7 linked regions of the Homo sapiens genome follow. The protein of the gene in region 1 purifies or fractionates together with the protein of each later gene. This does not show direct contact. Each region holds a gene or a part of one and is shown in the gene's direction. Other genes may lie near its edges.

The links.
Region 2: the proteins of RPIA (region 1) and TIFAB purify together in Homo sapiens (tandem affinity purification; one large-scale study listed by IntAct). This does not show direct contact.
Region 3: the proteins of RPIA (region 1) and IVNS1ABP purify together in Homo sapiens (affinity purification with mass spectrometry; one large-scale study listed by BioGRID and IntAct). This does not show direct contact.
Region 4: the proteins of RPIA (region 1) and RPE fractionate together in Homo sapiens (co-fractionation; one large-scale study listed by BioGRID). This does not show direct contact.
Region 5: the proteins of RPIA (region 1) and SLC19A3 fractionate together in Homo sapiens (co-fractionation; one large-scale study listed by BioGRID). This does not show direct contact.
Region 6: the proteins of RPIA (region 1) and GMPS fractionate together in Homo sapiens (co-fractionation; one large-scale study listed by BioGRID). This does not show direct contact.
Region 7: the proteins of RPIA (region 1) and MMAB purify together in Homo sapiens (affinity purification with mass spectrometry; one large-scale study listed by BioGRID and IntAct). This does not show direct contact.

The regions. Positions count from the first base shown.
Region 1 is NC_000002.12:88,747,173-88,750,672, forward strand, and holds part of RPIA (ribose-5-phosphate isomerase), read left to right. Parts: intron 1-2,808; coding exon 2,809-2,906; 3' UTR 2,907-3,500. UniProt on the Homo sapiens protein: Catalyzes the reversible conversion of ribose-5-phosphate to ribulose 5-phosphate and participates in the first step of the non-oxidative branch of the pentose phosphate pathway.
Region 2 is NC_000005.10:135,443,726-135,447,453, reverse strand, and holds the end of TIFAB (TRAF-interacting protein with FHA domain-containing protein B), read left to right. Parts: 3' UTR 1-345; coding exon of another isoform or gene 346-1,080; 3' UTR 1,081-3,228; downstream 3,229-3,728. Other genes in the region: DCANP1 (dendritic cell nuclear protein 1), read left to right, coding at 346-1,080. UniProt on the Homo sapiens protein: Inhibits TIFA-mediated TRAF6 activation possibly by inducing a conformational change in TIFA.
Region 3 is NC_000001.11:185,307,244-185,310,743, reverse strand, and holds part of IVNS1ABP (influenza virus NS1A-binding protein), read left to right. Parts: intron 1-1,232; 5' UTR 1,233-1,250; coding exon 1,251-1,361; intron 1,362-1,571; coding exon 1,572-1,741; intron 1,742-1,868; coding exon 1,869-1,944; intron 1,945-3,081; coding exon 3,082-3,255; intron 3,256-3,500. UniProt on the Homo sapiens protein: Involved in many cell functions, including pre-mRNA splicing, the aryl hydrocarbon receptor (AHR) pathway, F-actin organization and protein ubiquitination.
Region 4 is NC_000002.12:210,005,638-210,009,137, forward strand, and holds part of RPE (ribulose-phosphate 3-epimerase), read left to right. Parts: intron 1-3,500. UniProt on the Homo sapiens protein: Catalyzes the reversible epimerization of D-ribulose 5-phosphate to D-xylulose 5-phosphate.
Region 5 is NC_000002.12:227,687,029-227,690,528, reverse strand, and holds part of SLC19A3 (thiamine transporter 2), read left to right. Parts: intron 1-2,221; coding exon 2,222-2,363; intron 2,364-2,955; coding exon 2,956-3,132; 3' UTR 3,133-3,500. UniProt on the Homo sapiens protein: Mediates high affinity thiamine uptake, probably via a proton anti-port mechanism. Has no folate transport activity. Mediates H(+)-dependent pyridoxine transport.
Region 6 is NC_000003.12:155,869,408-155,873,449, forward strand, and holds the start of GMPS (GMP synthase [glutamine-hydrolyzing]), read left to right. Parts: upstream 1-1,242; 5' UTR 1,243-1,463; coding exon 1,464-1,490; intron 1,491-4,042. UniProt on the Homo sapiens protein: Catalyzes the conversion of xanthine monophosphate (XMP) to GMP in the presence of glutamine and ATP through an adenyl-XMP intermediate.
Region 7 is NC_000012.12:109,563,505-109,567,004, reverse strand, and holds part of MMAB (corrinoid adenosyltransferase MMAB precursor), read left to right. Parts: intron 1-1,828; coding exon 1,829-1,886; intron 1,887-3,500. UniProt on the Homo sapiens protein: Converts cob(I)alamin to adenosylcobalamin (adenosylcob(III)alamin), a coenzyme for methylmalonyl-CoA mutase, therefore participates in the final step of the vitamin B12 conversion.

The DNA.
Region 1 (3,500 bases):
GTTCCCAGGGGGATTATGGCTGCCTCTTCTGCGTCATACAGGCTGCCAGGGAAGTAGGAGAAAGCCGGCAGTGACAGACCCCCACCCAGCTGCCACACAGCCAGCAAGGCCAGTTTCACTCCCGCCATGCCCCACCATGGTGAGCAGGGCTGAGATCTTGCCCCAGACTACAGGCCTCCCTACTGAGAAAGCAAGCAGGCCTCTCAGGCCTCGCCCCTCCCTGCCTGCCTGCACCTTCGGCTGTGGGTTCTTCATTTGTATCTGCACTTCCCATTTGTCCCCCACCGGATTCTGCTCAGGAAAATTTGTGCTCAGTTGAAATTATTACGAAGTTCAGCTAGAAGCTTCCTTCATCCTGTGGCCCCTCCCCAGTTCTGCTGGCTGCCTTTTTTTCCCGAAGGACCCCTGTGAGATAAAGCCAGGGATGGCTTCCCTGGGCTCAAGCTGGGGACTGGAAGTGTCTACAGGGCTCTTCCTGCTGCTGCTTCTACTTTTATAGTTTGCTCAGCTCTCTAAATCCATTTCAGCTCTAGGTAAGATTAAATCCGTCTCCTGTGATCTGGATTTTTCAGGTTCCCCGGTGGGGATGTATGTTCAGAGGCAGACTTTTCCCCCTCTCACACTTTGGGAACTCACAGTTTTTTGGCTGTCTTATGGAGTTTGCAGCAGCAAGCCACTTCTTTCAAAGGGTCTGTGAATTCTTTTGGTTTTCCTGGTATGTTCCTGTGGTGGTTCTTGGAGCAAAAGTTCACAATGTGTGTCTCCACACACTGTTCTGTCTGTCCAAGTGGGTGCTGCACATTAATCCTGTCTTCTATTGCCATTTTCCTGCAAGTTTTCATTGTATTTATCCTTTTGAATTTGTGTAGTTTAAAATTATGAGTTAAACAGTGGCAAGTCCTCTTTGCCACTTTTCCAACCAACTAGTTACCCTATCTGGAGGCAGCCAGTGTTACCAAAATTGTGTGGCCTTTGAGATAGACTTTCATAAACACACAAATTGCAACTCCTCCCGCCCCACCCCTTTTTACACTAGCGGTAGCCTGCTTTATACATGTTCTGTTTCCTGCCTTGCCTGTCTTGGAGATTATTACACATTGGCTTATAAAAGAGCTTCCTTGTTCCTTTTTTTTCTGAATACCTGCATGTATTCCACTTTACCTATGTAACATTATGACTTAACTGGATCACCACTAGTGGTCATTTATGTTTGCAGATTTTTGCTAGCAGGGAATCACTGGATGAAAGGATTAATGTGTCTGTGATTTTTGTTAGATGGTTTCAGATTGCCGTCTGTAGCTTGTATTCACTTAGCCTTCTACCAACAGTGTGTGCAGGTATCTGTTTCCCTGCATACCTGGTCCATTATACCTTTTCTCTTACAGTTAAAGTGTTATGTCATTGAAGTATGTGTGAGTATATGTAAATATTCTTGGTAAAGGTTGTGTGTAGTTGTTAATTTTCACTGCTGAATCATATTCCATCATCTGTATGTGTGTGAAAAAAAGTTTATATCTATTCTACTCTTTTAGTTTTTTCTCTTTCTTTCTTTTTTTGGAGACAGGATCTTGCTCTGTCACCCAGGCTGTAGTACAGTGGCATAATCATGGCTCACTGCAACCTCTGCTCCTGGGCTCAGGCGATTCTCCCACCTCAGCCTCCTGAGTAGCTGGGACTGCAGGCATGTGCCAGCATGCTTGGCTAATTTTTGTATTTTTTGTAGAGCTGCCATCTCTATGTTATGTTTCCCAGGCTGGTCTCGAACTCCTGGGCTCCATCAGCTCCATCTGGAGCTCCATTGAACTCCTGGGCTTCATTCCCAAAGTGCTGGGATTATAGGCATGAGCCACCATACCCAGCCTCTATTCTACTCTTGATGGACATTTGGGTATTATCAGTTTTTAGCTAATAGGAAAAGTGCCACTATCAACATCTTACACATGTCTTTTGATGACCAAATGTATGCCTAACAGTTGTATATCTAGGAGTAGAATTGCTGAGTGGTTAGGTGTGAATCCATCAGCTTGGAAGATGAACATTTCCAAAGTGCTTTTGCCAGCTCAGCTTTCACCATCAATGCGTATGAGTGTCTTTGCATCCCAGCAGAATTTCATTACACTGACTTCAGTGTGTGTGTAGTGATATCTTGTAATATTAATTTGTATTTCCTTTCAGTGAATGATTTTGAGCATCTTTTAAAATGTTTATTGGCCATTTTGGGTAGCTTCTTTTGTGAGGTACTTCTTCAAGTCTTTTGCCCATTTTTCTATGGGGATTCTGTCTTTTTCTTGATGATTTATAAATTGTTTATATTTTTGATATGAGTCCTTTGTCAGGTATATGCTTTGCAAATATCTCCTCCCATTCCGAGGAAATCTTTCAAGGCTGGTGGTATGATTGAAAATAACTGGTAGTGGGGCTCCTTGGCTGGAGTAGTCATGGAGGGTCTCTAGAGGATGACTTGCCATCTGATATGTCTGAAGGACAGAGCTGAGCCAGCCCCTTGAAGTGCTTGACAATGACTGGCTCAGGCAGAGGGAACAGCATGAACAAAGGCCTCAGGGCAGGACAAAGCTTAGCATGTTTGGGTACAGAAAGAAGGCCAAAGTGGGAGGGGAGAAAGAGGTGGCAAGAAGAAATTAAGATAATCAGAATCTCTTTTCATTGCTCTGTGGGAGAAAAAGGCTTTAGATTTGTCATTCGTCCAATGCTGTGTATGACAGTTGCTTCTAGTGACCCTGCAGTCTTTGAGTCTCTTTTTGCTTTGGGAGGCTGAAACAATGTTTCTTTCTGTCCTTTGTCCTGCAGGTGTGGTGGACACAGGCCTATTCATCAACATGGCTGAGAGAGTCTACTTTGGGATGCAGGATGGCTCAGTGAACATGAGGGAGAAGCCTTTCTGTTGACCCTGCAAGGAGCAGAGTGTGTTCACCTTGAGTCTCCAGCCCACAGCCAAGGTGGACGTACCTCTCCAGGAGCCTTTGCCTTAATGTATCTCTGCCTGGACAACTTGTGGTGGGGGGTGGGGGGAAGAGTGGGAGGGGGAGTTAAATCCAGTCTTATGAAGTATTGTTATTAAATGTCTTTTTAAAAAGAGAAATATAAACATATATTTTTACTATTAAAATATTCAGTTTTTTAAATGAAGTAGAACTTGAGTTCATGTTTTATATGAAATATTTACCAAAAAAAAAAAATGAGGTAAACTGTATTTAAAACCTTTGACTTGAGTCTGCTGGTAAAGCTTCTGAATATTGAGTTTGCTGAGAAATAAAAATCAAAACTTCTTTAAGCTGGTAAAGTGAGGGGCCCACCAGCAGTGATCTCCTGATGCCTTACTGGAAACTTTGTTTACTTGTCTGCTACCCTCTGATTTGTTTTTAGTTAGTTTTTATTGTGAGCACACATAGTACCTAGTTACATCTTAAGATCAGGTTTATAAAACTGTGGAGTGGAGCGGTATGGTATGGAATGACTTGGAATGTAAGCTGTCAGGGAGA
Region 2 (3,728 bases), on another chromosome or scaffold:
CCAGCACACACTTAATAAGGGTTAGCTACTATCATGAGACCTGAGAGAGGAGGGCTCACCATCCACACGGAGCTAAGGAAGACTCACACCCCAGTAAGCTGGCTCCAGAACCCAAGGGCTTACCTGTGCTCTGTGATTCCCCAACTAGGGATTTAGTTGTAGCCACGGACCTGGTAGGCAACAGGGAGGGGATTTTAATCTGCTCCTTGCATCAGAAGGTCCAATAGGCAGGGTTAGTATAATGGGAGATGCCCTGGTAGGGCTGGCAAGGAGAAGAAGCCACATGTATTTTGGTCTGATGAAAAGCAGCAGTGATCTGTCACTGACCAAAATGGTCCCCCAACTATGCATTACGGAGCAGCAACCCACATACAGAACTCGAGAAGCCACGGCCTGGAGACTGTACCTGGACACCAAAGACTGGAGAGAGGAGCTGGTGGGGAAACCCCAGAGTTCCCAGGGTGCCACTCCCCAGCTCCACCAGAGAACTTTGGGAATGAGCTGCTGCCCCTGAGTGCCCCTCTCCAGGGCCTCAGTGAGGGTCTCTACCCTCCAGGGAGGAACAAAACCTTGCCAGCTGGGGTCCTGCGAGAGGGGGCAGTTCAATTCCTCCACAGGGGACTCTGCAACTCCAATCTTTCGAGTGAAGCATCTGCGAGGCCCTCAGGGACCCAGGATGAACTGCATAGCAGCAGAAGGAAGACAGGCCAGACCAGGCGGGAGGGAGCCCGGAAACATCTGGTTTGTAGTTTCAGACTCTACCCGTTCACAGTTCACACAGTCTCACCGGGAAACTCACACCTTGCCCTGTACCAAGTTTTTAAGGCAGTTAAGCTCTGCCCATCCGAGACTTCATTTTTCTTGAGTAGAAAATCACTGAAATCATCAGATCCATGGCACCCACCTTCACTTTCTCCTAACAGCTGGAACCGTCAGGCTGGCTTCAGGGCCTGGTCTTCGCACTTGATATCACTATCCCTCACCTGCTCAGACAGCCAGAGCAGGCGGGTGAGTTCCTCCCAACAACCTCCACTGCATTCTCTCAGCTCCCACCGCAGGGCAGCCCACGTGCCTGAGTGAACATGTGTGCGTGTGCACACACGCAAGTATGCACAGACATACACTAAACACGAACATACAGTGCACATGAACGCTGCTCCCAGCTAGGGCCCTCTGGTCAGACTGCTGCCTGGGTTAGAATTCTTGTCCCCACCCCCACTTACTATAGTTCTGTGATCCTGGACAAGTAACTGAATCTCTCCGTGCCACAGTTTCTTCTTGTAGAAAACGGGAAAGTTCACAGTACTTACCTCCTTAGAGTCATTGTGAAGGTCAGTTTGAGGCATCACAAATTTAAGGCACCCAGACATAAGGGTCAACAGGGTTAGCTATCACTGTCCAGTTTGGTGGGAGGAACTGAATGCATGTAGGCACATGGACCCAGTCTACACTCAGGCACAAAAGGAGCTACATTAGTTACATTCAGGCATACCCCAGAGCACTACAATTCTCTGAGACATTGTCTGGAAATCTAGAAATCATCTCCTTGCCCTTTAAGGTATTTTAACCCTCGCATTCCTCTGCTTTTCCAAGAATGTGAATCTTGCCAAGCTGTCCGTGAGAGACACGGGCTCCCCTCGAGGGAGACTTGCAAATGCTCCATAAACAGCCACAGTGTGGGGCTCTGCCATGAGGAAGTCACAGCAGACACGCTAGACAGCATAGTCCTGGATGCAACCTGGAGGAAGGGAGGCCCATGGTGGAGCACTCACTCCGTGCCTGTCTGCCCGGTGAGACCTCAAGTTCCTTGCAGACAAAGGCCATGGGTTGTTGGCTCTTGTGTTCCCGGTGGCCTTTCCAGAGCTGAACAGAGGACAGATGCACAGACGGGGGGGCTCTGGTGGTCAAGGCAGCAGTCCCCTTGGATACTAAAGTCTGAGCCAGGCCCCTCAGGCCCGGCATGGGCAGTGCGAGGCCCATAGTGGTGGGAAGCCAGTTGGCCAGCTGGGGTGAGAAGGCCGCGAAGCCATGGGCAGACAGGAAGTGGAGGTGAATGTCTCTGCCTCCTGTAGGCCTCAGCAGGGACAGCACAGACCCTCTGGCTGGGGCAGCGCAGACCCTCTAGCTGGGGCAGAACAAGGCTGGTGCTTCCTTCTAGTCCTTGAGACTTTGTAGCTCTAACTCAAGCAGAACCCTGGGGTTTTGGGATTCTGTGTGGTGACTGCTGAGGAAGGTTTATGGATTTGACAGGGTGCATGTCACAGAGAGACAGTTCTCAGTCAGCACTTCCTGTCCCCTGCAGAGGCTCATAGGGGACAGCCCCTGCCAAGGAGACCCTGGAGGGGCTCTGAGGATAGCAATCAGAGGTTGGGCTGGCTGGACTGAGCCCAGGCCTGTTGCCCACCAAGTCTCCATAGGTTCTAGTCTGACCCCTCTCTCCACCCCTGGGCTATGCAGGCCAGCCCGTGCAGACCACCCCCGACGCGTCCACTTGCAACACCCGCCTCACTGTGCCAACACTCCATCCACACAGGAAAGGACTGAGAACGTGATGCTTAACCCAAAGGAGTGAGTTTCATAGGATGGGTGGCTTTAACAGTTTCACAGCAGGACACTGAGGGAATATTTCCCTATCCCTTCAAATGGACGGTCACTACAGAAACGTGTAGAGCAAGACTTTGTCAAGGGGCTGTTTCCAGGTCTCCCGGTGTCTAAATAGCAGAGCTGGAATGGGAACTGAGAACCGATTCTTTCCACAACCGCCCACTGAGCAGCAAGGCTGCAGCCAGCAAAGAGGTGCGGAGGCAAGCAAGCTCCATGTGGTGGGGACAGCGCATTGCGACCTCCACCACCCCTGCAGTGGGCTGCCAGCTGAGCCACCTGTCTTCCACTGTATCTACTGTACGAACTTCTCCAGCTCTGCTCTGTTTTCTCTTCCTCAGCATCCACCCCGTGACACGTAGTGGTGGCTGATGTCGCCACAGTACCATGAGGTTAACAGGTCCTCCCTCCAGCTTCCCTCATGGTGGCAGCCTAACCTGCATTGCAGCCGTTCACCGGACACCGCACCAGACCCTCAAAACCCATCCAAGACTGTGGGAGGAGTAAACAACCCAGCCCAGTTAAGAGGAGATGCCGAATTTAATGAACCCTATTTGAATTGCAGGGCTGTGATTCCTCTTACCTTTAACGTGAACTCACAGGCGGATTAAAGTGAAATAAAACCTACCATTTGAGTTACATTCTCAGCTGATTGGAAACATGCATTGCCTCCCCATGACCGGGCCGTGAGAAGGGAAGTTATTATCTTTCTTTAGAGTTTGTAAACTCTTTATGGCTGAGGCAGCTTTAATCCTGCTGGGGAAAAAAAAGGATCCGGGAATCAATTGCTCCTATTTACCTTTGTTTTCCAATCACATGCTCCAGTGGGAATAAAACATCCTAAGTGAGGGGATGTGGGGAGCCAGGTGATCCCTGACAGAAGAGTTTGATTATTTTCTTCTCTAGGCATGTGAATTGAAGGAACTTTAGAGTTCTATTTGGCAAGGGGTCTCATTTCACAAAAATGTGCACCCCAGTAAGGATATCAGCACTCCTGGGCCATTACTGGTTCCTCTGCCTTTTCTTTCCAGAGGAAATGCCCTCCATTCCCCAACCATGCCCACTTCTTTAAGGGGTGCTGGCAGCAAAGGGCCCAGCTCCAGGCATTTGGCCAGGAAGGAGTCCGA
Region 3 (3,500 bases), on another chromosome or scaffold:
ACCACCATGACTGCCTAATTTTTACATTTTTTGTAGAGACAGGATTTCACTATGTTTCCCAGACTGGTCTCAAACTCCTGGGCTCAAGCAATCTTCTTGCCTTGGCCTCCCTATTACTGTTCTTTATTTTATTTTATTTTTTTAAGATGGAGTCTCTCTGTTGCCCAGGCTGGAGTACAGTGGCACAATCTCAGCTGACTGCAACCTTTGCCTCCCAAGCAATTCTCCTGCCTCAGCCCCCACAAGTAGCTGGGATTACAGGCGCCCGCCACCATGCCTGGCTAAATTTTGTATTTTTAGTAGAGATAGGGTTTCACCATGTTGGCCAGGCTGGTCTTGAACTCCTGACCTCAAATGATCCACCTGTCTCGGCCTCCCAAAGTGCTGGGATTACAGGTGTGAGCCATAGCGCCCAGCCTATCACTGTTTTTTAATTATGCATTTTGTGTAGTCATTAGTCAGTTGTTTATAAGTAATGGTAAAATGCAAAAAAGTTGTAAGTTCCCATTTATATTTATATAATCTGATGAGATAAGTGATTTAGAATATATGAAAGAAAGGAACAGAATATAAGTTCATCTTTTTAAATCACTGTATATGTTTCAAAACATTTATAAAAATAATTTCGTAGATACAGTGACAAGACTAATCAGACTTTTTAAGTTTGTGTACTAGGCAAGGGAGGAAGACATTAGGCAATTTTCTGCATATAAATCTTGATTATATATAATTTTGAAGACTAGAAGCAAATTGGGGGCCCTTTAAGACAACTGAAAAAGGCTAGGATTAGGATAAGTAACAGTTTTTCTCATTTGTGGGTAAAGGAATGACAGGAGCCCAAATCCAAGGAAACCTATATGTACTGGCTATTTCACCCTTTCAGGCTTTTAGATTACTTATTATATGGGTTTGGGCAGGATGGAGTTTCGTTTCCTTCCCTTCCCTTCCCTTCAGAATGAATTTGCTTAATGGGCATGGGAACCTGGCCAAAATTGTCGAGATAGCTGCTACTGTTTGAATCCTTTAAAAGTCTTATGACCAAAGTATTAGGGAACAAAGACTTGGACATTCAACACAGGTGTTGTTTCAGCTAAGTTTTTGTGTGATGAAATTTTTATGTGTTGTTTATAGGATGGAATTTGAGAATAAAGAGACTGTATTACTCTTTAGCATTATATTTTTAAAACCATCAGTTGCAAGTAAAATAACTCAGCTTTCTTTTCATCATCTAGCCAAATTTATAAGGAAAAATGATTCCCAATGGATATTTGATGTTTGAGGATGAAAATTTTATTGAGTCTTCTGTTGCCAAATTAAATGCCCTGAGGAAAAGTGGCCAGTTCTGTGATGTTCGACTTCAGGTATTTAAAACTTAATTCAAAATTTATAGAATTTTTTATTACTAAAAGCCATAAGTTCTTAGATTTGCTTATTTCTTTTTCATAGGCATTTAATGAAATGATTTTTTAAAAGAATACTGAGAAATGTAAGATAAAGGAATCTGATATAGTAATTAGCTAGAGAAGCACATAATCCACAATACTTATAATTATAATTCTTCATAATTTCAGGTCTGTGGCCATGAAATGTTAGCACACAGAGCAGTGCTAGCTTGCTGCAGTCCCTATTTATTTGAAATCTTTAATAGTGATAGTGATCCTCATGGAATTTCTCACGTTAAATTTGATGATCTCAATCCAGAAGCTGTTGAAGTCTTGTTGAATTATGCCTACACTGCTCAGTAAGTACATTTGAAGTAAACCATATAATTAGGGAATATCTTCAGAAAATTCCAAGTCTTGCTACATATATTTAAATTAAGTGTGTTTTAAGGCTTTGGTATCATAAGTAACTTTTTTTTTAAATAGGTTGAAAGCAGATAAGGAATTGGTAAAAGATGTTTATTCTGCAGCAAAAAAGCTGAAGATGGATCGAGTAAAGCAGGTAGAGTATCAGAAGTAAATAAAATCATTTATGGAGTCTTATTTTGTGTGATTGCAATGCTGAATTTGTCATAAAACATCTTGTTAGTTTCAAGGACTTGAACATGTCCCTTTTTTCCCTCAGAGTAGTCAATATGTTATTTTAACTGTTTGGCTATAATAATGTAGCAAGATCACACTTCTTCTCAGATAATTTGGGCTGAAGTCTGACCCTTTCAGCAATCTTCTCTGGTAGGGTGGCTATGTCAGCCTTTGATAGCATGAATTAAAATTAATATTTTTCTTAAGAGTTAATCACATAACTTATATCCTCAATTCTGTGTTCTCCTAAACTTCCTGTGCTCTCTAAAAGTATTCCTTCTAGAATTTAATGCCAGTAAAAAGTACTTTTGGAAAACAGGCATTTAATCCCCTAATGCATGGGGGTCAGTAAACTTAAGGCCTACTGGCCAGCTGCCTATTTTTATAAAGTTTTATTCAAACACAGCCATGTGTGTTCATTTACATATGGTCTACACTGCTTTCCAGCTACAGTGACGGAATTGAGCAGTTGTGACAAACAGAATGGCCTACAAGCCTAAAATGCTTTTACTATCTGGCCCTTTAAGAAAAAGTTTGATTTGCTAGCCCTTCTTCTAATACCACTCCTTTGTTCAAAAATCCTTCCTTAATTTACAGTACATATCCCTGCATTTAGTTTCTAGATTTTCCCTTATATAGTTGCTGTCTTTCCAAAACTATTTCCTAGTTATCTTTTCTCCAACCAAATTAAATTGTTTGCAGCATCTTCTCTACTTCTGTCTGCATTCAACATCAACATCATCTCTCCTGTAGAGCCCAGTTCAGATACTGCGTTTCATGAAGCCTTACCAAATTATTCTACTTGAAAATACTTATGTGAACTTACATAGCATTTCAATTTGTTGTACCTCTCCTTAAACTAAAACTTACATATCTGTATGGCATAATTAGATGTTTATCATTTGTATACGTGTTATTACCACTATTAACATTTGTTGTATTAAGACAGTGATTTTTGATTCTTTGTATCTTCACATAGTCTTTACCACACTGAACATTAAATATTTGTTGAATAAAAGATATGTAAGTGTTGGCACTCATATATTTCTTTTCCAAGGTTTGTGGTGATTATTTACTGTCTAGAATGGATGTTACCAGCTGCATCTCTTACCGAAATTTTGCAAGTTGTATGGGAGACTCCCGTTTGTTGAATAAGGTTGATGCTTATATTCAGGAGCATTTGTTACAAATTTCTGAAGAGGAGGAGTTTCTTAAGCTTCCAAGGCTAAAGGTAAGGAGTAAAGTCTATAAACAGATATATACTATCTAGTTCCAGGCGTGGAATCTTGGTCTGTGTTTCAAGCAAGTGAGTAATGATTATGAAATAATACATTGAAATTATATTGTTATTCTTAGCAGCGTAATGGGTTTCTCCCTACCAGTTTGTTTACTTTGTTTTTGATTCAGTAATCAAATTCCTTACAAATTCCTGGTTCCTTACAAATTCCTGGTTCCTTACAAATTAGAGTAAATGTA
Region 4 (3,500 bases), about 120 Mb from region 1:
AAAAAACAGTTCAAAGACTTGCTAGCACTGGGCCCTCAGTCTTACCAGGTGACATGCGCTGGAGCTGACAGGGGCAGCCTCACCTTTAGTCATGTGGGGTGTACTTCATTTGGCCCCTTTCCCTATCTGCTCTGTTTTGCTCTTTGATGTTACCTAACTCTCAGCAGCATTGAGTTTGTGATTCCTGATTCACAGGAAGATTGTGTTCTAGTTACAGTCCTGTACCTTTTATAGCAACTCTAATCCTCCTCTTACCATCTTTGCCTTGTTGGGAGATAGGGTAAATGGCTTGATCTGTCTGCAGTAGATTGTGTTAGAATTACGTAAGTAAAGCTTAGGAGTGATGATGGAACATGAGAGAGAAAATTGTATCCTTGTATTACAAAAAATTATAGTGTAATTCCAGTAAGTCCCTGGAAGAAAGGGATACCTTTTTATTTTATTTTATTTCTTTCACACTTAACTAACTCCAGGAAATAACTTAAAGGAAAAAGAGGCAGAATAAGATAATGATGAAGCAGACTTTTTAGTGAAGTTTCTCTCTGTTAAGTGAAATAATTAAGTGTTTTCCAAGCTGGTCTGTTAACTCCCTCTGGCATTTGTTCAAAATTCAGATTCCCGGTCCTCTTTGGAGTCAGTAGGCTGAGGTAGAGACTGTAAATACATTAGAACTGCTCTCATGGTTACTGTTTGGCAAATTTGGGACACCCTGACTTCGTGCTTAGGATTGTAGCCCCTTTTTGTTATGGCTTAGCGTAGCCTTTGGGTTTTTTTTTGAGACTACTGATGCATTCTTGTTCTTCCAATATACTTCGTGAACCTAGTGCATTGAATTGATTTTCAAAAGCACAAATTAAGTCACGTAACTTTGGGGTTAGTATTTTTATACGTTTTGTTTAGGTTTTCCCAAAAAAGTAAAAGTGTATTTTTTTTGGTTCTTTTATTTACTCGGGAGGTGGTTATTATACTTTTATTTTCATAATAAATGAAACCTACTGTTAAGACAACGAAACTATTTCCCAGACTACACAGCAAATTAAAAGAACAGTATGTGAAATTCAGATCTTTAATTCCAGAATTGTAAAACATTCAATAGGCCTTACTGCCTGCTTCTGTGACCCTTATTTCAAGTTCTAAGTAAACACATGCATCTTATCCACAGCCCTGACAATCATTGCTCAGGCAAATGTTAGAATCACTTTTTTAATGATAGAAATTAAACCTCCAAAGACCAAGGTGTTATTGAGTGAAAGTGTCTGTTCCCATCCACCTTATGTGTCCCTCTCAGATGTGTCCTGAATCCTTACCTCTCTCTCTTGAATCTCTTCTCCGCTAGACTTTTTCCCCTTGTTTGTTTCGTTTGTTGTCATTATAGGGACAGATGAGCATAGTAGTTAAGAGTCTGGACTTTGTAGCCATAGTGCCTATGTTTAATTCCTGCCTCCAGCACTTACTGGTTGTGTGACCTTGGGCCTCTGTTCCTCATCTGTAAAATACAGTTAATAAAAGTACCTACCTCATAGGGTTGTTGTGAGGTTTTAATGATTTAATATACAGAAAGTCTTTAGAACTGTGTGTGGCCCACATATAAGTTTGGTTTTTATTAGCACTCATTCTACCTGTCATCTAACTGTGAGACCTTAAACATAGTTTGTATTTTAACTCCCCTCCCACACACCTAATCATTTAACAGATCCAATCAGTTTTGCCTGTCTTGTCATTCTTAGTGTTCCTTGCCACTTACCAAGTGGCAATTGCAGTCACCTACCCTCTTGTAATTTATTTCCCATCCTATCTTATTTATTAATATTTCTCACTTTAAGATCTTACTTCATATTTACAGCAGGACAAAAGTCCAGACACTGAGCTTGGCATTTGACACCTTTAATGTGATACTACCAACCTCCCATCTTTTTTTTACACTAGCCAAAGTTGGTCAATACCACTCTCCACGTCTTTGACTGTAACTTGCTTATTTCTGCTTTTGCTTCATTTTCAGCCTTTGTTTCTTTTCCCATCTTTATAAATCCTATTTTGTAAATCTCATGAACTTCTTTCTTAACGTTCTCTAATACTTGCTCTTATTTTATGTATGTTTTATCTATAATCACGTTACCTGCCTGTTATTGTATAGCTTTTCTTGTAATCCTCATATAGGATAATACCTGCTGCTTTAACAAAGCCCAGATTTCAGTAGCTTAGCATTCTAGTTTCTCATTCATAAAAGAGTTCAGTGTGAGTGTTATTCCATTCTGTGGCTCTTCCATTCTGTAAGGGCTTTGTTGGCAGAAGGGTAAAGTGGCAATAGGAAAGGAATTCTCCTTAACCTTCTGAGCTCTGCAGTGACACACTACTTGCACTCACAGTCTGGTGGTGAGAGTCACATGAGCCACTTGGATGTAAAGGGAACTGGGAACTGGGATGTAAAGTCACATGGGCCACTTGAATATAAAGGGAACTGGGAATGAAAAGGTTTGACTGAGTTGACATCCCACTGACAACTATACGATAGCAGTAGGGTTGTGAATTCTGGTGAGTCATTCATTAGCTGTCAATCTCTGTCATAGGAACTGTAGCGTATTTCCTTTACAAAACAGTATTCTGAAGCACCTAGTATGGTACTTGCATATAGGGGATTTTTTTTGTTTGTTTTTGTTTTTTTTTTTTTTTTTTTTTGAGATGGAGTCTTGCTCTGTTGCCCAGGCTGGAGTGCAGTGGCGTGATCTCAGCTCACTACAGTCTCCACCTCCTGGGTACAAGCGATCTTCCTGCCTCAGCCTCCTGAGTATCTGGGATTATAGACGCACGCCACCACACCCAGCTAATTTTTATATTTTTAGTAGAGACGGAGTTTCACCATGTTGGCCAGGCTGGTCTTGAACACCTGCCCTTGTGATCTGCCACCTTGTTCTCCCAAAGTGCTGGGATTACAGGTGTGAGCCACCATGCCCGGCCCCGGTTTTGTTAAAGATTTAAGTGAACTAGTGATAGAACAAAAAGATTAACTGGAGTAGGGTAAAGGATAAGTACCGTGGGTCTGGTAGACTTGATTTGTTTTTGTTTTTGTTTTCGTTTTTGAGGTAAGTCTCGCTTTGTCGCCCAGGCTGGAATACAGTGGCACGATCTTGGCTCACTGCACCCTCCACCTCCCAGATTCAAACGATTCTCCTGCCTCAGCCTGCCTAGAAGCTGGGATTACAGGTGCATGCCACCACTCCCAGCTAATTTTTGTATTTTTAGTAGAGACAGGGTTTCACTATGTTGGCCAGGCTGGTCTTGAACTCCTGACCTCAAGTGATCTGCCCGCCTCAGCCTCCCAAAGTATTGGGGTTACAGGCGTGAGCCACTGTGCCTGGCTGGTAGACTTAATTTGAATCCACTTCCACAAATTATTAACTGAGTTACTTAAGGATTTTATTTATCTTGTGCTCTTCAAAGGGGATAATAATAGCATCTACTTTGTAAGGCTGTCGTGAAGATGAAATGAAGTAAATTACGAT
Region 5 (3,500 bases), about 140 Mb from region 1:
TCATCGTGTTAGCCAGGATGGCCTTGATCTCCTGACCTCATGATCTGCCCACCTCGGCCTCCCAAAGTGCTGGGATTACAGGCATGAGCCACCGCGCCTGGCCGTATTTACAATTTTTATATTCTCTTGCTGAATTGACCCTTTTATCATTGTTTAATGACCTGTGTCTCTTACAGTTTCTGTCTTGAAATGTATTTTCTCTGCTATATGTATAGCTACAAGTCCTCTTTTTTTGTTTGTTTCCATTGGCATGGCATATCTTTGTCCATCCCTTCATTTTCAGTCTATGTATGTCTCTATAGGTAAAATGTCTTTCTTGTAGGCAACAGGTCATTGGGTCTTTTTAAAAATCCATTCAACCACTCTCTTTTGAAGAGTTTAGATTGATAAGTAAGGACTTACTCCTGTTATTTTGTTATTTCTTTTCTGGTTTTGCAGTGTTTTTCCTTTTCTTTCTTCCTTTTAGTGAAGGTGATTTTCTCTGGTGATATAATTTAATTTCTTTTTTACTTTTTGGGTATCCATTGCATGTTTTTCAATTTGAGATTACCATGAGGCTTGCAATACTATCTTATAACCCATTATTTTAAGCTGATAACAACTTAAGACTATTTGCATAAACAAACAAGCAAAAAGAAAACTAATAAAAACTCTACAGTGTAGCTTTGTCCTCCTGCTTTTTAACTTTTTGTTGTTTCTCTTTATATCTTATTGTACTATTTGTCTTGAAAATTTGTAGTTACTATTTTTGATTGGTTCATCTTTTAGTCTTTCTACTTATGAGAGTAGTTTACATACCCCAGTTACAGTGTGATAATATTCTGTGTTGTTCTATGTACCTATTATTACAAGTGAGTTTTGTGCCTTTACATGTTTTCTTATTGCGCATGAACGTCCTTTTCTTAGAGATGGAAGTACTCCCTTCAGCATTTCTTGTAGGACAGGTCTGGTGTTGATGAAATCCCTCAGCTTCTATTTGTCTGGGATGGTCTTTATTTCTCCTTCGGGTTTGATATTTTCACTGGATATACTATTCTAGGGTAAAAGTTTTTCTCCTTCAGCACTTTAAATATGTCATGCCACTCCCTGGTTCTAAAATTTCTACTGAAAAGACTGCTGCCAGACATTGGAGCTCTCTTGTATGTTATTTATTTCCTTTCTCTTGCTCCTTTTAGAATCCTTTCTTTATCCTTAACCTTTGGGAGTTTGATTATTAAATACCTCTAAGTAGTCTTCTTTGGGTTAAATCTGCTTGGTGTTCTGTAACCTTGTCCTTGGATATTGATCTCTTTAGGTTTGGGAAGCTCTCTGATATTATCCCTTTGAATAAACTTTCTACCTCTATCTATTTCTTTACCTCCTCTTTAAGGCCAATAACTTAGATTTTCCTTTTTGAGGCTGTTTTCTAGGTATTGTAGGTGTGCCTCATTCTTCTTTTTTCTGTTGTCTCCTGACTGTATTTTTAAATAGCTTGTCTTCAAGCTTGCTAATTATTTCTTCTGCTTGATCAGTTCTGCTGGTATGAGATTCTGATGCATTCTCAGTATGTCAATTGCATTTTTCAACCACAGCATTTCTGCTTGATTCTTTTTAATTATTTCAATCTCTTTATTAAATTTATCTGACAGAATTCTGAATTCCTTCTTTGTGTTATCTTGAATTTCTTTGCGTTTTCTTAACACAGCTATTTTGAATTCTGTGTCTAAAAGGTCGTATATGTTTCTCCAGGATTGGTCCCTGGTGCCTTATTTAGTTTGTTTGGTGAGAACGTTTTCCTGGATGATCTTGATGCTTATGGATGTTCATCAGTGTCAGGGTATTGAAGAGTTGTATTTATTGTAGTCTTTGCTGTCTGGGCTTTTTTGTACCTGTCCTCCGTGGGAAGGCTTTCCAGGTATTCAGAAGGATTTGGGTGTTGTGATCTAAACTGTATCTACATTAGGGAGCACCCCAAGCCCAGTAACACTGTGGTTCTAGCAGACTCTTAGAGCTACTGCTTTGGTGGTCTTGGATAAGATCCAGAAGAATTCTCTGGATTACCAGACAGAGACACTTGTTCTTTTCCTTTACTTTCTTCCAGACAGTCTCTCTCTCTCTTTGCTGGACTACCTGGAGCTGGAGGTGGGTGACACAAATACCCCTGTGGCCAATATGTTCTATCTTTTTAAGACTTCCATCCATGTATATTATAGTTAAAATGCTTATTTATGTTTAATGATAGATTTCAGATTGCAGTTAATCTGAATGTGGAACGCTATGCCTTGGTATTTGGAATCAACACCTTTATTGCCTTGGTGATTCAGACCATCATGACTGTGATTGTAGTAGATCAGAGAGGGCTCAACTTGCCAGTCAGCATTCAGGTAAGCTGCAATACTTCTGTTTTCAACTAGGTAACCTCAAAAATTTCTCAACCTTACAACAAGCAATATTTAAATTTCTTGAGTTCCTTGGTTAAGCAATTAAAAAATACATAATTCCTTCATTATCATATTATAACACACCAAGTAGGTTTTGAGCAATAATTGCAACTAGGACAACATTTACATGGATAAGGCAGGTAAGAAGTAACCTCAATGCTTAAATTTATTCTTGGAGACATTGAATGTAGCATTGCACCAGCCTCCAAACAAAGACATAGAGACAGGTCAATGAGTTTTAGTGTTTTTTTGGGTTTGTTTTGTTTTGTTTTTTACTATTGATGATAGTAACTATGATTTTAACCCAAGCAACCTGCTCTAAAGCCAAGACTCTTAGTCACCGTATTGCTTACACCTTCTTACTTGATCTTGATTTCTTACTTGATAGGAGAGTATTGTTCAACCTAAATGACCCATATTAAAAACCTGGGTCTCAGTTACCCCATAATCCAAGCAAACCAACAGTATTAGGATGTATTATCATTGACATAGATGGTCATATTTTATATGTGGCTAATTATTTGTTTTTCTCCAGTTTTTAGTTTATGGGAGCTATTTTGCAGTAATTGCTGGAATTTTCCTAATGAGAAGCATGTATATTACCTACTCAACCAAATCCCAGAAGGATGTACAGAGCCCTGCTCCAAGTGAGAATCCAGATGTGTCTCACCCAGAGGAAGAGAGTAATATCATCATGTCAACAAAACTCTAACCTCATCGCAACAAACGCAACAGTGGCTTTCAAAGTTATGCAATAATAAGGAAAGATTTTGAGATGGGTGGCATATGTTTTGCCATAACTTGACATGCTTTGCAAATCTGGATTCCAATGGACCTTTCAAAACCACAACAAAACCTCAGTTTTAGATGAGTTCTCTATGTGACCAATTTTACTGGATGCAATTGACAGGACCCGTCATCATAATTAAACAACCCATATTGGGGACCCCCTGTGACTAGTAGCAGCTGGAAAATTCTGGTTTTTATCACTTGTAAAGACATGCAGATGGCGTGGAACCAAACCATGAGAAAACTCCAGCCATCCTGGAGTTGATATTCACCATTTGTGAGGAGAAATAC
Region 6 (4,042 bases), on another chromosome or scaffold:
ATTGTGCATACAGACCTACCCAGAGAAGCCAGTATCCATGGCTTTGGAGAGTTCAAATATTCAATTTTCCGTTCAAAAAAAGGTAAGCGAAATACTTAAGTCTCAGGCCCACTAGGACCTTAAGCCTTTCGTTTTTGTAAATATTTCACTAATAAACTGTCTACACTTTCCCAGATTGGGCAGGCCTTACATTCTATATATACTGAGAGGCACATTATCTCACTAAGCCTCAATTTCCTCATTTGTAAAAAGGATAAGAACATCAATCCTACCTTACTACTTTCACGGGATTGGTTAAAGTTAGCTTTTAAAGTATTTTCTCACTCTGGCTCCTTAATACCCTAGCTACAGTCTGACACAAGAATGACTGCAGCAAAATGTTGGCTGTATTATAATAAAAATATTTGTGGAAAGGCTTTGTTAGCTGGAAGCCATCTCAAGTATTATTCTTTATACCCCAATCTCGATTTAGGCCTCTAGGTAACCAAATTCAAAGTAACACCTCATCATCATGATGGTTGCCAAGGGGTAGGTGGAGGGACTGCAGCCCCTTCCCCACAAACAATTCCAATAAAAACACTGTTGTGCAAACAGAGCTTCACGACCAGTTCCCTGGGCCAGCTGCTCACCAGATTACCACTCCCAAACTCCCTTTTCTTTGGAAATACTGCACCTGCTGTATTTGTGGGGAGCTGTATAACTTTTGAAGTATCTAAGTGATCAGTTCCTACAATGACATCCTTGAGATATGGCCACGGAACTTTCCAAAGCAGCCTTGGCCTCCTTCATGTCCAGCAACCTGAGATAAGGCCACGCCACCGGCTAAGAGTTCCGCCAGGGGCCCAGCTCTCAGGAGGCCTCTTCGGTGCCGCCAGCCTCCCGAAGTCATCCAAGGTAGCAGGCAAATCCGGCAGCAGCAAACTAGCTCGGATTCGGCTTCGGTTTTTCTCCTGGCCGGCGCCACAGGCCCCTCCTCCGGGGCGGGCTCCTCGGTGCGAGGGCAGGAGGGGCGGAGCCGGTGGATGCCGCGGGCTCCTCCTCCCAAGGGCGGGCCGCGGGAGACCCGGCCGGCTTTGCCGGCGGGGACCGGGCTGGGGGCGGGGCCGGGCGCCGCGAGCCCCTCCTCTCGAGGGCCGGCCGGTTTGGCGGCGGCTGCGGAGGGTATCTGAGGCTCGGCTGCCAAGCCGAACGGGCTCTGGCTCCTCCCAGTGGCCGGCCGGGGCGGAAGCAGGAGGCGGGGGCAGCGTGCGCGCTGCTGGTCTTCTCTCCCGCGGCGCTGGGGCCCGCGCTCCGCTGCTGTTGCTCCATTCGGCGCTTTTCTGGCGGCTGGCTCCTCTCCGCTGCCGGCTGCTCCTCGACCAGGCCTCCTTCTCAACCTCAGCCCGCGGCGCCGACCCTTCCGGCACCCTCCCGCCCCGTCTCGTACTGTCGCCGTCACCGCCGCGGCTCCGGCCCTGGCCCCGATGGCTCTGTGCAACGGAGACTCCAAGGTCAGCGTGGGGGTCCCTGCAGCACCGCATCCCGGCGGAGGCGAGGCTCCCGGACCGGGGAGCCACCCCGCGAGGCCCTTCCCCACCCCCTTCCCCCAGCCCGTCCGCGCAGCCCTGCGCCCCGGGCAGCCACGCGTCGTAGAGTCCCTGGTCGGGGCCTGTGGCATGTTTTATCTCGGGAGCGGCGATGCTTTGTTGATCTTGTCTGCGTGTCGAGGTCCGGGCGTCGGGGAGGGCATCAGCTCCCCGCGGCCGCGTCGCTGGCCCCCGCCTCCCCCGCGCCGCTGTGGGGCGCAGAGCCCGCGAGCGCGGCGCGAGGGTGGGGGTAGGGCGGCGAGCGGGCTTGTGTGTCTGCGTGTCGGGGTGGGGGCTTCCTCGGCTCCCACCCCGTCCCTCTGGGAGGCTGGGGGCCCGTTGTGGCGATCCCGGGGCCCGCCGAAGGCAGGGCAGGGTCGGGGCCTCCTGTGCGGCGTTGGAGCTGGGCCGGCCTCTGGTCTTCCCGCCACCCCGTTTCCCGCCTGCCCTCGGCGAGGCCCGCTCCATTCCCCCCGCCAGCCTTGGGCTCCGCGGCGGTTAGGCCGGTTCTGGACGAACCCCTCGGAGCTGCACTGTCTTCCCCCTCCCCCAACGCCCCTGCAGGCCCGCGTGAGGGCTGGTGGCCCCAGGGTCGCGCACTCCGTTCTCCCTCCCCGCTTCCTTCTCAGAGAGGAAAGGGTGTGTGTCCAGGTCCCGCCCCCGTCCAGCTTGCTCCCTGTCGAGCTTGCTGGTTTGCGGGGTAACCCGCTTCCCCGCCTTTGGGGTCCCTCCCCGGGACGCGAGCCGTGCCAGCTCGCCCGAGGCCTGGGCAGTCCGGAGTTCCGGAGTGCTGGAAAAGTTGCCGCCTTGACGTACCCGGCGGGGAGAGCACGTTTGACCGCTGCTGCTCATCTCTCCTCCAACTCACTTTTCTTAGACCGTTCCTCTTACTTTCGTCCCGCTTTTGAATTGGGCACCTTCGCTTTCACCTCTGTATTAAAATTTTCATTGGCCTGGAGTTCTTTCTGACCTTCACTAAGTCAGTTTTGCCAGCGGGAAACCGTGCAGTTTTGAATTGCGATTTACTTCATTAAGATACACCTCCTCTGTACGCTGTTGAGGGCCTAGCTTTAGGAAAAAACTTAATTAAATTTCATTCGGGGGGTGGGATTGTATACTTCGAGGTGGATTTGGTGCTCTACGTCAGATAGTAGTGCCTTGTTCAGGCAGAATTTTAACATTCTTTTTAAAAGGTGCTGCTCAAGGGTCACATCTTAGGAGGTCCTCTTGAATGGTTGCTTAGCACCCGGTAATCATTCAAAAAGTATTTGTCGAACAATGAGTAAAAGATTATAAGGTAGCTGATTTTAACTCTTTTAAACCAAGGCACCAGTGGTGCTTAGGTCCAGGGAGCTGTTAAGACACACAAACCTTTAGTTTCTGACCTAAGGAGCAAATGTAAACCCCATTGTCCAGCTCTTTCCCGATTACTAGTCGACTTGCAAAGCATTTTTCTGCCTAGTTTTGAGTCTTACAACTCATTGGAAAGATTCATCTTTATGCTGATAGATGAAATAACTGGTGTTAGAAGGACTGAAATTTAATTTATGGGCTTTGAAAAATATATAGTGCATTTGAGAGGAGTATTTTCACAAAACTAAGTGACAGAAAAGTATAAGATTTGTTTCCAGAGTATATAAGAGGATTTTTCTTTTTCCTAACTGGTATTTTTTCTTTGTTTTGCTCTAGTTGGAATGACAAAGATAATCTTATCAGTTTGCTATATTTGAGCCTAGGGTGAATTAATTTTATTTCAAGGTTCTTTATGTTTTATAGCATAATTAAACATTTTAAAAACTATGTTAACAATTAGTTGTGGACTGAATTGGAAGCATTTTCAAGAGGAACATCTGGAGAATTAATATATTTCATCAAATCTATGATTATTGTATGTACCCCTGAGGAAGAAAGTCCTGACAAACCATAACATGCCAGTGATCATAAACATTTTAAGTAAAGAGATATTAAATATGGGGAAATACCTTATATCACCTACTTTATTATGCATATTTCTAAGAGGCCCACCTGGAAATAAGTAGGAGTCTTATTTTCCATAGCCTACCACTGAACCACCTTTCCCTTGGGAGGAAAGGCTTACTTTGTACATTGATTGGGCCTTGGCTGTGTGTATCTTAGTTCATAAATTAAAAGTTGGGCAAGAGCTGGTTTTGATTCCTGTTTCTGGTACATTTCAGTTATCAGGATTTTCTAAAACGGCGTTTTTGCATGATAGAAACTGGAGAGGGGCCTAAAAGCTATGAAAGCATTTGGGTTATTTTAATTATTTTTTATACACAATATTTTATTTAATTTTTAATTTATATTATTTTTTTGAGACAGGATCTTGCTCTGTCACCCAAGCTGGAGTGCAGTGGTGTGATCACAGCTCACTGCTGCCTTGACTTCTTTAGCCTCCTGAGTAGCTGGAAGTACAGGCGTGGATCACCCCGCCCTGCTAATTTTTATTTTTTGTAGAG
Region 7 (3,500 bases), on another chromosome or scaffold:
TTTTCGGGACAGATAATGGGAGGTACAGATAGTCAGCCAGCCGGGTAGAGAAGGCAAACAAACCCCTTGGTGTGTGTGGGAGGGGGTCCAGAAGAGGGCAGACACAAGACCAAGTGGGCAAAGGGAGAAAAGGCCAGTTCTCGCATCAGCTATTCTAATGAGCTCTAAAACACGAGCCATCGTCTCTCAGTTGAGGAGGAGCGGGAGGTTGGAGAAACCTCAGTTGTGGATTCTTCCTTGGTCAGATATTGACCAAGCATCTGCAGTGCGAGGCGCTGCTCAACAGAGAACCTCAGCCCCGCCTTCCTGAGCTGCAGAGTGCAGGGAGCAGAACCTCAGCCCCACCTTCCTGAGCTGCAGAGTGCAGGGAGCAGGCAGCACTCACTGGGCAGCTACGAGGGTGGGAGCAGGCTTGGGGCAAGTGCCCAGGGTGGGGCCTGCCACTGGCCTGGTCACGGGGCATCCCTCGGCAAGCAGGTACTTCTGCACACCTCCTGTGAGGCAGGCATGGGGCATCCGCTATGATGGAGACAGACTGTGTCCCAGCCTGCACAGCCCTCCCTTTGGTCCAGAGGGGAAGACACACCAGACGGGAATCACATACTGGTGTGTTTAGTTCTAACTGTAAGATGTGCCAGGAAGATGGGCTGGATATTCTCCATTGGCCCTTTCAAATCCCTTCTCTTCACCTTCTCTTTATGCATGGGAGGCTGACCTTATCACCTGGTGGCTGTGCCACCTCGATTCGTTGGTCTTCTGGCATTCAGGTGGGTCCAGCCAGTGGGAGGCACCAGTAGGTGATAGGAGAGTGAGTGCAGAGAGCTCATGAGTGTGTGTGACCCTGTTCCCCAGTGGTGCATGGCTCTGGTGGCAGCTGGGCTCCCTACCTAACTCCCTCCCTGCTGAGTGACTCCAGAATTCAGCTCCCTCCAGGGTGAGTTGTACCTTCCCCGACCCTTGCCCTTCAGGCTCCTGCATTTCCCTGAAACTCTGCCCATACCTCTGTGAATTGTCCCTTCCCAAAGCCCTCCTCCAGGAATCCCTGCAGCGCGCCACTGTCTCCTGCTGGGGCACTGACTGGTGCAGGAGGGAAGTGCAGGGTTCTGAGGGAGGCAGAGCCAGGGTCCTGACCTGTGTCGGGGGGCAGTTTGCTTTCTCTGCCTTATGAGGGAAGTCCTCCCCAGCCTTCAAAGTCTCCCCTCCAGCATCACCTCCTCCAGGAAGCCCTCCCTGCCTCTCTAGCCAAGGTCAGATTAGGCTTCTATTGCTCTTTCCTTCAGAGCACTGATCTCAGTTTGCACCTTCACATTCAGGAGTATGTCTAATCTGATTACCTATCACACTCCTGAATATCACGCTCCTGAACATGAAGGTGTAAGCTTTGCCTGAAGTCCCAGAGACACTCAGCAGCGGTGCAGAATTTGCACCTGGGTCTGTCTGGTTCCCACTCACCTATCACCACAGGGCTGCGGGTCAGAGCTCAGGATCCAGCACTTGAGACTGTCACTGCTCACCCTGTCACCAACTTGCTGGAGAGAGCCTGGGTCAGCTTCTGTTCACCACTGACTCTCCTGGGCCTGGCCAGAGTAGCTGTTCAAAAGGAATTCTTGACTGGAAATAATGAGCATCCGAAAAGGCATTTCAAGAAACAAATACCACCGCCCCCAAATGGAAGGCTATAATGTTCTTATTGTTAGCAAGAAAAATAACATGGCTATTATAGCTAAATTAACTAAATGGCCTGCCACCTGAGAATCTATTGTTTATGGCAAGACAGGGCCTAGGGACATTACATTACAGGCAAATTCTTTTTCCTTTTTCTTCATAGGTTTGCTCTGGAATTAGTCACAGAAAAGGGCCATACATTTGCCGAAGAGCTTCAGAAAGTGAGTAACACCATCTCACCCAAGCTGGGAATCTTCAGCCCCGGTGGCCATCACGGGACTCAGCATCCAGCCACCAGTTACTCTTTGTGTCACCTGGGGCTAGTTACTCTCCCTCTGTGAGCTCCATTTCTTCATCTGTAAAATGCGGACAGGCCAGGTATGGTGGCTCACACCTGCAATCTCAGCTACTTGGGAGACTGAGGCAGGAAGATCACTTGAGGCCAGGAGCCTAGGTAACATAATAAGACCCTGACTCTACAAAATATTTGAAAATTAGCCAGGCATAGTGGTGAATGCCTGTAGCCTTAGCTACTCAGGAAACTGAGGTAGGAGGATCTCTTGAGCCCAGGAGGTCAAGGCTGCAGTGAGCTGTGATCATGCCACTGCACTCCTGCCTGGGCAAGAGATTGAGACCCTGTCTCAGGCCGAGCACCATGGTTCAATTAAGCCTGTAATCCCAGCACTTTGGGCGGCCAAGGTGGGAGCATCACTTCAAGCCAGGAGTTCAAGACCAGCCTGGGCAACTTAGGGAGACCCTGTCTCTACAAAAAAAAAAAAAAATTAAAAATTAGCCAAGTATGGTGGCATGCACCCATAGTCCCAGCAACTTACAAGGCTGAGGTGGGAGAATCGCTTGAGTCTTACAGGTTGAGGCTGCAGTGAGATGTGATTACACCACTGCACTGTAGCCTGGGCAACAGAGTGGGATCCTGTCTTTAAAAAAAAAAAAAAAAAAAAACCTCTGTCTCCAAAACAAACAACTGGAGACATATAATCTTCCTTCACAGGCGAGTGGGGAGGATTGTACTAAATGAGGGAATTTAAAATGCAACGGTTCTCAACCCAGGGCCATTCTGCCCCTCAGGGCCCGCTGAGCAATATCTGGAGACATTTTTGGTTGCCACATCTGGGTGTTGGGGGTGTTGCTGGCATGTAAATATCCTGCAATGCAGGGGACAGCCCCCGTCAACGAAGAATGACCCGGCCTTGAATGGCAATAGCACCGAGGCTGAGAAAGCCGGTGTGAAGTGCCTCGCTCATGCCCGATGCAGAGGGAACCTGGGAAGCCTAGCTGCAGTGAGCCCTCAGCCCGTGGGACTCATGCGTCACAGTGTCACTGTTCTGTTCCCTAAGAAGGAGGGGGCCTCTGACCCACGCAGAGAACTTCAAGCACGGAGACAGGGTCACCACCCCAGAATGCCCAGGGTGCCGCACTTTCCACCTCCACATGGACCCAGGTCCCCAGAAACCGCTCCCCGCAGGGTCAGCCCTTCCCACTTCCGTTCTGAAGCCCAGGCTGGAGCCTGCTCAGGCCCCTGGGAACAGACGGAGGGTAGTAGGTGGGGCTGCCACAGGCTGTGGCTGCAGGAGGAAGCCTCAGCTGCCAGAACATTCTGTGTGGTGGAGGAAGGCTTTCAACCTCCTGAGGAGCCGCGGTAGCAGCGGTCATTTCTGTCTGCTGTACGCGTTGGGTCGCAGCTGTCACGTCACCTCCTCAAGGGCCTTCCCTGGCCACCTAATCTCCAGCTGGGTTAGGCACTGCTCCTGGATTTCCACATCCTCTAACCACAGGCATCACAAGGGGTGTTAACCTGTTCACCCATCCACCTCCCA